Linked DNA regions of Homo sapiens: region 1 is linked to region 2. A link means that fine-mapping ties the variant in region 2 to the expression of a gene that starts in the linked region. Tissue or cell type: B cells. Region 2 holds a variant in brackets; the other region holds the start of a gene. All regions are shown on one strand. Distances are from middle to middle. Region 1 holds the start of MGST2 (microsomal glutathione S-transferase 2). Region 2 overlaps MGST2 (microsomal glutathione S-transferase 2).

Region 1 (5,376 bases), 24 kb after region 2:
GATGTGCCTCATTATATCCTCCGCCCTTTGGAATTCAGGCATAACTGACCAGCATTAACATTGAAACAGACCTTAATGTTAGTCCAAACTACACCATTTTGTAAGCCCCCTGCCATTTCACAGGCCTTTGTCAAAGTGAAACATTCCATGGGGGTTCGGGCCCTGAGAAATCCTGCCTAGCCACCTGACCACAAGACACAGGAACATCTTTATCATACCCTGCCAAGCAAAGACCCAACTGAAGAAATATCCCTATCAAATCCTGACAGAGCCCAAGGAATATCCCTGGCCAAACCACCTGAACATAAGAACATCTTATCAATATCCTCCAGGGCAGCAAGCCATACTGCCCAAAACCCTCCTGCCCATACCTGTACATACCCCAGCCTGTAAGCAATGGCGGGCTCTGGCATTAAGCTGGTCCCCCACCTCCACAGGTTTTTGTAATAAACCTGTGTTGTTGTAAAGCCTCTCTCTCTCTCCCTCTCCCCCTCTACCCCCTCCCCCTCCTCTCTCTCTCTCTCTCTCTGTGTCTTTCTTGAACCCCACCTTCCCTTTAAAAAATCTAACACTTAAGACTTTTTGTAGAAATAAGACACCAAATTCCAGCCTGACTCCAGTATAGCATCACATGACAGATAGCAGGCCTTGAAAGAAATTGAAGTATTTTACCCTAAAATATATTTCTTTGTCATATTTTGAAATGGTCCTGCAAAGTTGTCTCTTGTGGGGAAAGTCTACATTCTGTAGAAAATCCCTTTCCCTTGCCAGGTCTTTTCTCTGATCCAGGAGAGAATTAACAGAGTCTGGCACCTTTTCAAGTCTCATAAGAAACATTTACAATCTATTCTCTCCAAACGCTGCTACCTGGAAGCTTCATTTGCATAGTAAGAACCTTGGCCTCCACAACCCCTTATCTTAACCCAGGCACTCCCTTCTATGGATTTGAGGTCTGTAGATAAACTCTTTTAATCAATTGCCAATCAGAAAATCTTTAAATCCACCTATGACCTGGAAGCCCATGCCCCACTTCCAGTTGTCCCGCCTTTTGGGACCAAACTAATGTACATCTTACATGAATTGGTTGATGTCTTATGTCTCCCTAAAATGTATAAAACCAATCTGTAGCCAGACCCCTTTGGGCAGATGTTCTTAGAATCTCCTTGGGCTGTGTCACCGGCCACTCGTCCCTCATGTTTGGCTCAGAATACAGCTTTTCAATTATTTTACAAAGTTCAACTCTTCATCAACATCTTTTTTTTTTCTTTGAGATGGAGTCTCGCTCTGTTGCCAGGCTGGAGTGTAGTGCTGTGATCTCAGTCCACTGCAACCTCCCCCTCCCAGGTTCAAGCGATTCTCCTGCCTCAGCCTCCCTAGTAGCTGGGACTACAGGAGCGTGCCACCATGTCCAGCAAATTTGTGTATTTTAAGTAGAGACGGAGTTTCACCATGTTGGCCAGGATGGTCTCGATCTCTTGACCTCGTGATCCACCTGCCTTGGCCTCCCAAAGTACTCGGATTACAGGGGTGAGCCACCGTGCCCGGCCCTAACACCTTGTCATTAAACATTCCCTGTCCACCATTAATCATCATTCACCCAGTCTCCTCTCCTCTCTCCCCACCCCTACCCCCACTCCATCCAGCCCCCTAACATTCTGGCCCCAGTTCACACAGCCCCCTGCACAAGCAGCAAACAGGGAGGATGAGCACCTCTGTCAGCTTTGGGACATCTGTGGACCTGCAGGCCTAGGATAAAGGCGCATGCAGGTTTGGTAGCACCTGTGAGTCAGGATGCTACCAACAGTGAGCCTTAGACCTGCTAAATTAGGTTTAGCCTAAAGCTGCCTTCTGACATATTTTAAGTTCAGCCTAAAGGTTTCTCCGTACATCGTGAACTATATGCTTCCGTTTTCTGGGAGTCGCTTTCCTTTTTCTGTCCATAAATCTTCTTCTACCACGTGGCAGCCCCAGAGTCTCTCTGAACCTATTCCGGTTCCCCATGCCCAACTGTGAATCGTTCTTTGCTCAATTAAACTCAGTTAAATGTAATTTGTCTAGGGTTTTCCTTTTAACAGATCTAAGTGCTTCTTTAATTAGAAACAAATATCCTGCTCTTCTCCACAACAGATTGTGTGAATCAAACCACAAAACGTGAGTCTGAAGGTTCAAGATCTTCATACAATCTCAAAACAGACTGGCTAGGCAAGACATTGAGCATGCACGGAGGCCTGGACTGGATCCTCAGCTGTGAGGCCTTCCTGCTTCTGGCTGTTTGTGTAACCTGAGCAGTCTACGGCTTGGCCCTATTTCCTGGTACAGGCATACTTGGAAATATAAAGAAATATGCATGCTTGGTAAGAAGTCTTGCACTCTTGCACTCGGACCCCTTTCCCCAGCTGACATTGTAGGTAAGATAATATGAATTGAGCAAATGTGACTCCCATGGAGTAAAAGCCCTCTATTTAACCAGGCAGTCGAGATATTGAATAATCCTAGTGGGAAGCTGTTTTAAAATTTAGAGCTAATTACTTAATCTAAAGCTAATATTTCTGAAGGAAGTTTTTTTCAATCTGATAATCATACCACCATAGGCAGTTTATTTAAGAAAACACATTAATTAAAACATCAACGTTCAAGAAATCACAACCAGGTTTAGAAGCAGGCACGTTTCCTTTGGAACACTTGTAATTAATATTCACACCACTTCCTGCAGGTTAGCAGGCTACTAACGCTCGTTTGAACGGGCTGTGGGTCGTAATCACAGATGATGCAGAATCGCTGAGCTCTGAGGCCCCACAGCGTTCCAGTTGGGAGAACTAATCTCTGGAATGTTCTCAGTCTCTGCTTGCCCCTGGGAAGGAGGGTAGCAGGCGGCATGGGTGACCCTGAGGCGACTGTGCTCTGAGGACCCAGAGCTACCTGCAAGGGCAAGTAGGAAACAAAACACCGGACCCATCTCCCTCCCTCCCTCTCTCTCCCGCAAGCCTTGTCACACACACACACACACGCACACACGCGCACACACACGAACTTCCCATGCCTCTTACTTTGCTGACAGGCCGAGAGAATAGAGACAGCAGCCAGCAGGATCGAGTTCCCGGCCATCTTTCTCACGGAACTATTTGTAGAGCGCACGGGAAGATAAATGGCGCTTCTTGACTTTGAATGCTGACCTTCCTTATCGGGTAAACAAAGTTGGGGACCGGGTGGGGGGAAAAGGCTGATTCAAGCGGCTGAATGACCTTTGCTCTGGAACAGAAGTCAGGAAGGCAGGCAGGTCTGGGGCTGCCGGTCACAGATCTTTATGGGGCTGGGAGTTGCTTCCGGCGTTTGTTTTAAGCCTCTCCCACGGCCAGCGGGCAGGGCTGTAGCTCACTGTGGGACCAGCCCTCCAGCCGCAGTGCCAGTTACACTATCTTCTCTGCCAATGCACAGACTCTCTGGATCCCTTTCATCCCCACGCCCTTCCCTCCTAGGGCCTTGCTGAGACCTTTCTCACCTCCTGTGGAAAAAGTGAGAAGGAACTACTTACTTAATCCTGTTGACATTTTAAATGCTAATTTAAGCCAGTTCTAATGTATTCACGCTCTGAATGGCCGATTTAGGATTTGAACCCAGTCTAGCAGATTACAACTGTGCCCTATCCCCTGCACCAGGCTGCCTCTCACTGTCACCTAGAGACTCTGATAATAATCATACTTTTTTTTTTTAAGACAGGGTCTTGATCTGTCACCCAGGCTGGAGTGTGTGGTGGCACGATCATAGCTCACTGCAGCCTCCAACTCTTGGGCTTAAGTAATCCTCCTGCCTCAGCCTCCCAAGTAGCTAGAACTACAGCCACAAGTCACTGTGCCCAGCCATTTTTAAAAAAATAAACCGGCCGGGCGCGATGGCTCACACTTGTAATCCCAGCACTTTAAGAGGCCAAGGAGGGTGAATCACGAGGTCAGGAGATCAAGACTATCCTGGCTAACACAGTAAAACCCCTTCTCTACTAAAAATACAAAAAATCAGCTGGGCATGGTGGCACGAACCTGTAGTCCCAGCTACGCAGGAGGCTGAGGCAGGAGAATCTGCTCTTTAGAGATGCAGATTCTGGCCTGGAAGGATGGCTCATGCCTGTAATCCCAACAGTTTGGGAGGCTGAAATGGGCAGATGGTTTGAGCTCAGGAGTTCGAGACCAGCCTGGGTAACATGGCAAAACCCCATCTCTTAAAGAAATACAAAAATTAGCAGGGCATGGTGGCACGTGCCTGTAGTCCCAGCTACTTAGGGGGCTGAGGCAAGGGGATTGCTTGAACCCAGGAGCCTGAGACTGCAGTGAGCCAAGGTCGTTCCACTGCACTTCAGCCTGGGTGACAAAGTGAGACCCTGTCTCAAACAAATAATAAAAATAAAGATGCAGCTTCCCAAAAACCAGAGCTGGGGGCCTTTCCTCACCCCATCCTACAGCACCATTAGAGGGTATATCTTGGCTCAAGCTGCTATAACAAAGATACCATAGACTGGGTGGCTTACAATAGCAATTTATTCGTCACAGTCCTGAAGGCTGGGAAGTCCAAGATGACAGTGCTGGCCAATCAGTTCCTGGTGAGGGCCCTCTTCCTGGTTTGCAGAAGGACACCTTCATGTTGGAGACAGAGAAAGAGTAAGCTTCCTGGTCACTTCTTATAAGGGCACAGATCCCATTATGGGGGCCTATGCTCATAACCTCACCTGTAGCTAATTATCTGCCAAATGCCTGATAACATCACGTTGGGGGTTAGGGTCTCAACATATGAATTGCAGAGGGGACACAAACATTTAGTCCCTAGCAGGGAGCTCCCAGTGTCTTCTGGGGAGGGCAGTTGCCTCAGCCTCACACAGACCCTACAATTTAATAACACAACCTTGGGCCTCTCTGAGCCTCCATTTAATAAGATAGGGCTAATAAGAGCTGAAGAGAAGTTTAAATGACATAATCCTATTCTAAGGATTGAATTAGTTAATACTTATAGAGCACTTAAAACAGCACCTGGCATATACAAATGTGTTCTGTGTGTCTGCAAAATAAACACATAAAGTATCTAGACAAGTACTTAGCATATAATGTACCTAATGTTAAAAAATACTTTCAGAGGCAAAAATCATGCCTTTCATACAACATAAAATGAAAACATATCAAAATTTTTATGTAACTCATTCATGAGGGAACCAGTAAGATGTTATAACCAGTTCAAAGTAGAATTCATGGAACTACACATATACAGGAAAGAAGGAATAACAAAATTAATTTATAAATAGTTGCAAGCCAGGTCTGCTCAAAGTTTCTGTTGGTCTTCAGGCTTCCTTGGCTGTTTGCTCTTGAAATCATTGACAACTAAGATTAGATAAGA
Region 2 (5,376 bases):
TAATTATTTAGAGGTTTTTCTAGTGGCCTTGGCTTGGCATCTGGGGACAAAGAGATAATATTGTGTAAGAATGTCCTAAGTCCAAACTGCACTGCAGAGGGCAGAAGCCCTTTGGGTGTCTGTCCACATAAATTGATAGGCATGTGTGCTTTTGTGTCTCTTATCTGAAAGAGGAAGAAGGCCTTTGAGCAAGGAGAAAGGAAATAAAAATAGAGGGGATGTTTTGGAGTTCCCCTGCTGCCCTCACAAGCTAGGGAACTAGTTTCACACCTAATGGGAAACCAGAGACCAGAACAGATGCTGACGGATCGTCCTCATGAAAAACTTGGTGAGATTCCAGATACAAGTGGTGCCATGCCTCAGATGACAGAAGAGACAAAGTCGGGGAGAGTCACACCCTTAATCTCCCTCTGCCACAGACCCAGAGCAGCTCCTGGTGGTGGTGGAAGGCACTCCAGAACCTGGGGAGGGTATTGTACTCACAGAGGACTGGGGAGCAGGACAGTGGCATAGCCCCTTGCTTCAGCTGCTTGCCAGCAGGAGCTGTGTCCCTGGGCACATCCCCTGTATTCCCAGAAGGAATTGGGAAGATGGGGAACCGGGGTGCTGGGATCCTGGGTGAGCAGCAGGTGGCTGGAAGCCACTGAGATTTAGGCAAGGATGTGATTGCAGCTGCGTTTGTGCTCACAGGATGGCAACACCTGGAGTACTGGAGCAGCTCAGCACCATATCTCTGTACCTTTCTTTCTCAAGAAATAGGCCCTTTGTCCCCTACAAGTGGCTGGTCACTGCTGAGCTCACCCCAACCTCACGTCCCAGCTGTGCTCATTGTACTTTCACCCTGGTCCCTCTTTTGCTGACCTGCCTCAAGCCTTAGTCCCTTGGAAATGAGACTTTGCCCATTTCTTGCTATCATCTCTCAGAGATTGAAAATAATTGCTGGGCGCAGTGGCTCATGCCTGTAATCCCAGCACTTTGGGAGGCCGAGGTGGGCAAATCACGAGGTCAGGAGATCGAGACCGTCCTGGCTAACACGGTGAAACCCCGTCTCTACTTAAAAAATATAAAAAATTAGCCGGGCGTGGTGGCGGGTGCCTGTAGTCCCAGTTACTCGGGAGACTAAGGCAGGAGAATGGTGTGAGCCCAGGAGGCGGAGCTTGCAGTGAGCCGAGATCACGCCACTGCACTCCAGCCTGGGTGACAGAGTGAGATTCCGTCTCAAATAATAATAATAATAATCATCATCATCATCATCATCATCATCATCATCTGACTGCCAGTGGGGTGCCCTGTTTGTTGCTGACAGTCTTCCCTGCTGCCTGCCTGGTGAAAGCACCAAGTATTGGTTTGGCCTTGAAATACCTGGAATCCCATTCTACCTGCTAATTGTCACCTCCTCCAGCCCCTCCACCATGTGACCATGTCCTTCTGCCTGATTCTGGGTCCCTCCAGGCCTGGATGGTGTCCCACAATAACACGTCCTCAGTAAGCTGTCAGCAGGCATGTTTAACTCAAGGGGACCAAACTCTGAAAATTACTTCTTGACAATCCTGTCAGTGGCTAATTACAGTTTCATTGACATGAAAATAATTTATAGCCTCTTTTAAGTCATGAAGGCAGATATATTCTATCCTCTTATTACAGGGGATCCTCAGGAAAATTTCCCAAATGGAACAGCAAACAGCCTGCAGTAGCTGTCAATCTTCCCTTCCTGTGAGAACAGGGGGTAGAGTTGATTATGACCACTGTCTCCTCTCTGCATGTCCATACTGGAAAAACAGGCTGTCCATGGGAAAACAGGCTGTGTATACTCATTCCCTGGCGAGAGCCCTCTTTGAACAATCCCCTGCTCCTTTGATATTGAAGCTTCCCATGAACGCTATCTTGGTTTGCCTGGGACTGAGGAATTTAGGGGGACATGGAGCTTTAAGTGCTAAAACTGGGTAAGACCCAGAAGAACTGGAAAGAGTCTGGTGGGCACTGTGGAGATTGAGTAGTTAAAGCTGCTGAGACCCCTTGTTGTTCATCCCAGTACCATGGAGCCTGGGCCCTGGGGGCTCAGGACTACTGCACATTCCCACCTGGATCTGGTAACCAGGAGCAGTAAGGATGGCCCAAACTAAGTGCTATTTGGGCCTTGTCTCAGTCAATAAGTATACTACAAAGTTTATGTTATTTGGGGGTGGGAAAAAGAATCAAACTGTGGCCTGGCAGCTCCAAATGTGGCAGTTCCTTCAACACTAGTCTCCAAACTTTTCTGATTGCATAGCTCTAACAGTTGCACAGCCCCATAAAAATATGCACACATCCTCCTGCAGCAGAGGAGGCCCACACCCAGGAGCTCCCACATAGGACCAGACTTGAGCAAGACATGAACTTCCACTGTGTTAAACCATGGAGAATCTGGGATTTATCCATTAGCACAGCTAATACATTCAACTGGAAAAGAATATCATATTCATTATAAAACAAACATCATAAAAATTAAAGGATGGGGGATCAGGAAGCTGGTTCACACCTGTAATCCCGGGCCTTTGGGAGGCAGAGACAGAAGGATCATTTGAGCCAGGAGTTTGAGACCAGCCTGGGCAACACAGTGAGACCTCATCTCTATAAAAAAATAAAATTTTTTTAAAAAAATTTAAGGCCAGGAGCGGTGGCTCACACCTGTAATCCTAGCAGTTTGGGAGGCCGAGGCAGGTGGATCACTTGAGGTCAGGAGTTCAAGACCAGCCTGGACAATATGGTGAAACCCTGACTCTATTACAAATACAAAAATTAACTGAGCATGGTGGTGCGTGCCTGTAGTCCCAGCTACTCAGGAGGCTGAGGCAGAAGAATCGCTTGAACCCAGGAGGCGGAGGCTGCAGTGAGCCAAGATCGCACCACTGCACTCCAGCCTGGGCAA[C/G]AGAGCAAGGCTCTGTCTCAAAAAAAATTTTTTTTAATTAAAGGATAGGATTTTAAGAATAAGTATAAACAGATGCTCCAATATTTTCCTCACCCTCACAGTGGATTACTTAGTGTATTCCTTCAATGTGGGCACATCACTTGGGAGACTTCTGGCCTAAAACTTTTTATGAATATTTCTCTATTTGACCGTGTCCAACGAACACAATATGCAACTTTGCTTGCAACAACTTTGTTCAGAAAATATGAAACATTCTCCTAAGGAAAACCTCATGAGCCATTTCTAATGCCAGGTTCACAGTAGATCTTTTTCTAAATAAAAACAGACAAAGCAATTCAAAGGAAGTTTGCTTCTTGCAGGTTTTCTGTTTGCTTCTGATTTTTTCTCTTCTTGTTTAGGTGACTCATCCTGAACCAGTGGGCTGTACACTGCCATGAGCCATTTGCACTCTGAATGGATGACCCGGCCTTGGTCTTCTGACTTTGGACCCTGGGCGGTCTTTTGGATGATTACACTGACTGGGATCAGAGCAACAGGTTAATATGCTCAGAAAAGGCTTGGGGATGAGAGGTTGCTGGAGTTAATCTTTTTATAAAGACGTGTAACTGTCTAAATTGCTCCTTGTCAAGTAACTCTGAGTGGGACACAATAGGGAGGTGGCGGCTGGTGGCAGGAGAGCATGAGTCCCACCACTGCCCTTCAGTGGTGCTGCTTGTAGGGAACACAAAGAGCATGCAGGGAAAGGAGATTTGCAGTTCCTCCACCTCCCAGCTCCCTCTTGTCCCCTGACCACCTGGAGAATCTCCCGGATTATGTGACAGATGCTGCTTGGTATTGGTAAGGACACTGGAGTTTGAGGAGCTCATCACACAGAGTCACTCTGTCATTTTGGGAGATCCCTTTTTTTTTTTTTTTTTTTTTTGAGATGGCGTCTCACTCTGTCACCCAGGCTGGAGTGCAGTGGTGTGATCTCAGCTCACTGCAACCTCCGCCTCCTGGGTTCAAATGATTCTCCTGCCTCAGCTCCCAAGTAGCTGGGATTACAGGCATGTGCCACCACGCCCAGCTAATTTTTGTAATTTTTAGTAGAGACGAGGTTTCATCACGTTGGCCAGGCTGGTCCTGAACTCCTGACCTCAAGTGATCCACCCACCTTGGCCTCCCAAAGTGCTGTGATTACAGGCACGGGCCACTGCGCCCAGCCCCCAGCCCTTTATAATAATTCAGTGGATAAGGGCATCTAGTGCTTTCTGCTATTGTCCATGATGGTTACACTTGTAAGAAAACAGGAATATGTTTACTGTCTCTTTTTTTTCCACTTATTACAAAAGCCAGTTGCCCACATTACTGTAATCTTATAGTTGCACAATACCTGAAAAATCACTATTCTTGTAAATTTTCTTTTTCTCCATAGTTTTTAGACATGCATTAAGGTCACTAGTTTTAATTTCCAAATTTCAGAATCAGAATTCAAAATGACATTAAAAAGTTAATAAAATGTAAAAAAAAAAAATACAGAATCACAGTAGAATGAGAAGAGGCTAATATTTCTAAAGGGTACCGAGATTCACGATGATCAGGCTTACCTGTGCCTTGTGGCAGGTTAATTTTGGAACAGGAACTGAATAATTCAGCATTAAGCAAATAGGAGTGCATTCACAAGAACTAAGAAGCAATTCTTCTGTCTTAACCAGCACCAAAGAAACCATTATTAGTATACTAGATATACATCTAGACTCCAGGTTTAGAAATAATATTAAAAATTTTTGTCTAAAGAGAACCAAAATTTCTAAATGGTTGGAGAAAAAAAGCTGAAGAATTAGTGCTCCCTAGCCTCAAAATCCAGAAGATGAAAGATGCTTAATAATGGTCTTTCAGCACATGAAAAGGAGTGAGGTCAGCAGCTATTCTCCCCTTCCAGTGAAGGTAGAATCAGAGGAAATGTATTTAAATTGCAAGAAAATCAATTTATTACTTGGATCTACTTTTTAGATTTTATAAAATGACTTTACTCTAAAGGGATCAAGGTGCTCAGATTAGATGAGATAGAATTTTCTAAATTCAGTAATAACGTAAAGGAATGGTCCTTGGTGAAATTATAGTTGCTATTTTCACAATTTTAAAAAATGTATTCTGGCAAAAGACGGCAAGACTCTAGAGACTGTCATCTGTAAGTCCTCTCCTGTAAGGAAGGGAAGAGGAAGTGAATGGAGATTTTAAGGAGCCCAGGGCTAGTAACTCAGAAAGGCTGGACTCCATATCAGCTCTGGTCACAAATAGATACCCACCCTGAGATGACCTTCCAACAAGAAACAGTCCTTTAGGATCAGTGAACCTTGAAGTGACGCTGATGAGATGTCCAGGTCCACCTAAAGATAGAATTAGTCATAACTTTGGGCTTCTTGGCTATGCTGAGGGCAAAATCAGCAGGAGAAAAGGGTAGGGAAAAGGCTGGACCTCTAAGCTCT

What was found. PIP is the estimated chance that this variant, and not a neighbour inherited with it, causes the effect.
Region 1: MGST2 starts here. The variant in region 2 is the best candidate, but not a certain one, in a credible set for the expression of MGST2 in B cells (Fairfax 2012, PIP 0.62).

The regions. Positions count from the first base shown.
Region 1 is chr4:139,663,749-139,669,124 of GRCh38, reverse strand. MGST2 (microsomal glutathione S-transferase 2) reads right to left here and starts at 3,306. Exons shown (of 5, transcript NM_002413.5): 1 at 3,048-3,306. The coding sequence starts at 3,105. RefSeq lists enhancers at 3,082-3,251, 2,548-3,747.
Region 2 is chr4:139,687,561-139,692,936 of GRCh38, reverse strand. The region is part of intron 2 of MGST2 (microsomal glutathione S-transferase 2); the gene reads right to left. Among named protein-coding and RNA genes, the nearest start is that of MGST2, 24 kb to the right of the region's middle. RefSeq lists an enhancer at 286-335. The variant C/G (reference allele first, on the strand shown) is at 2,909.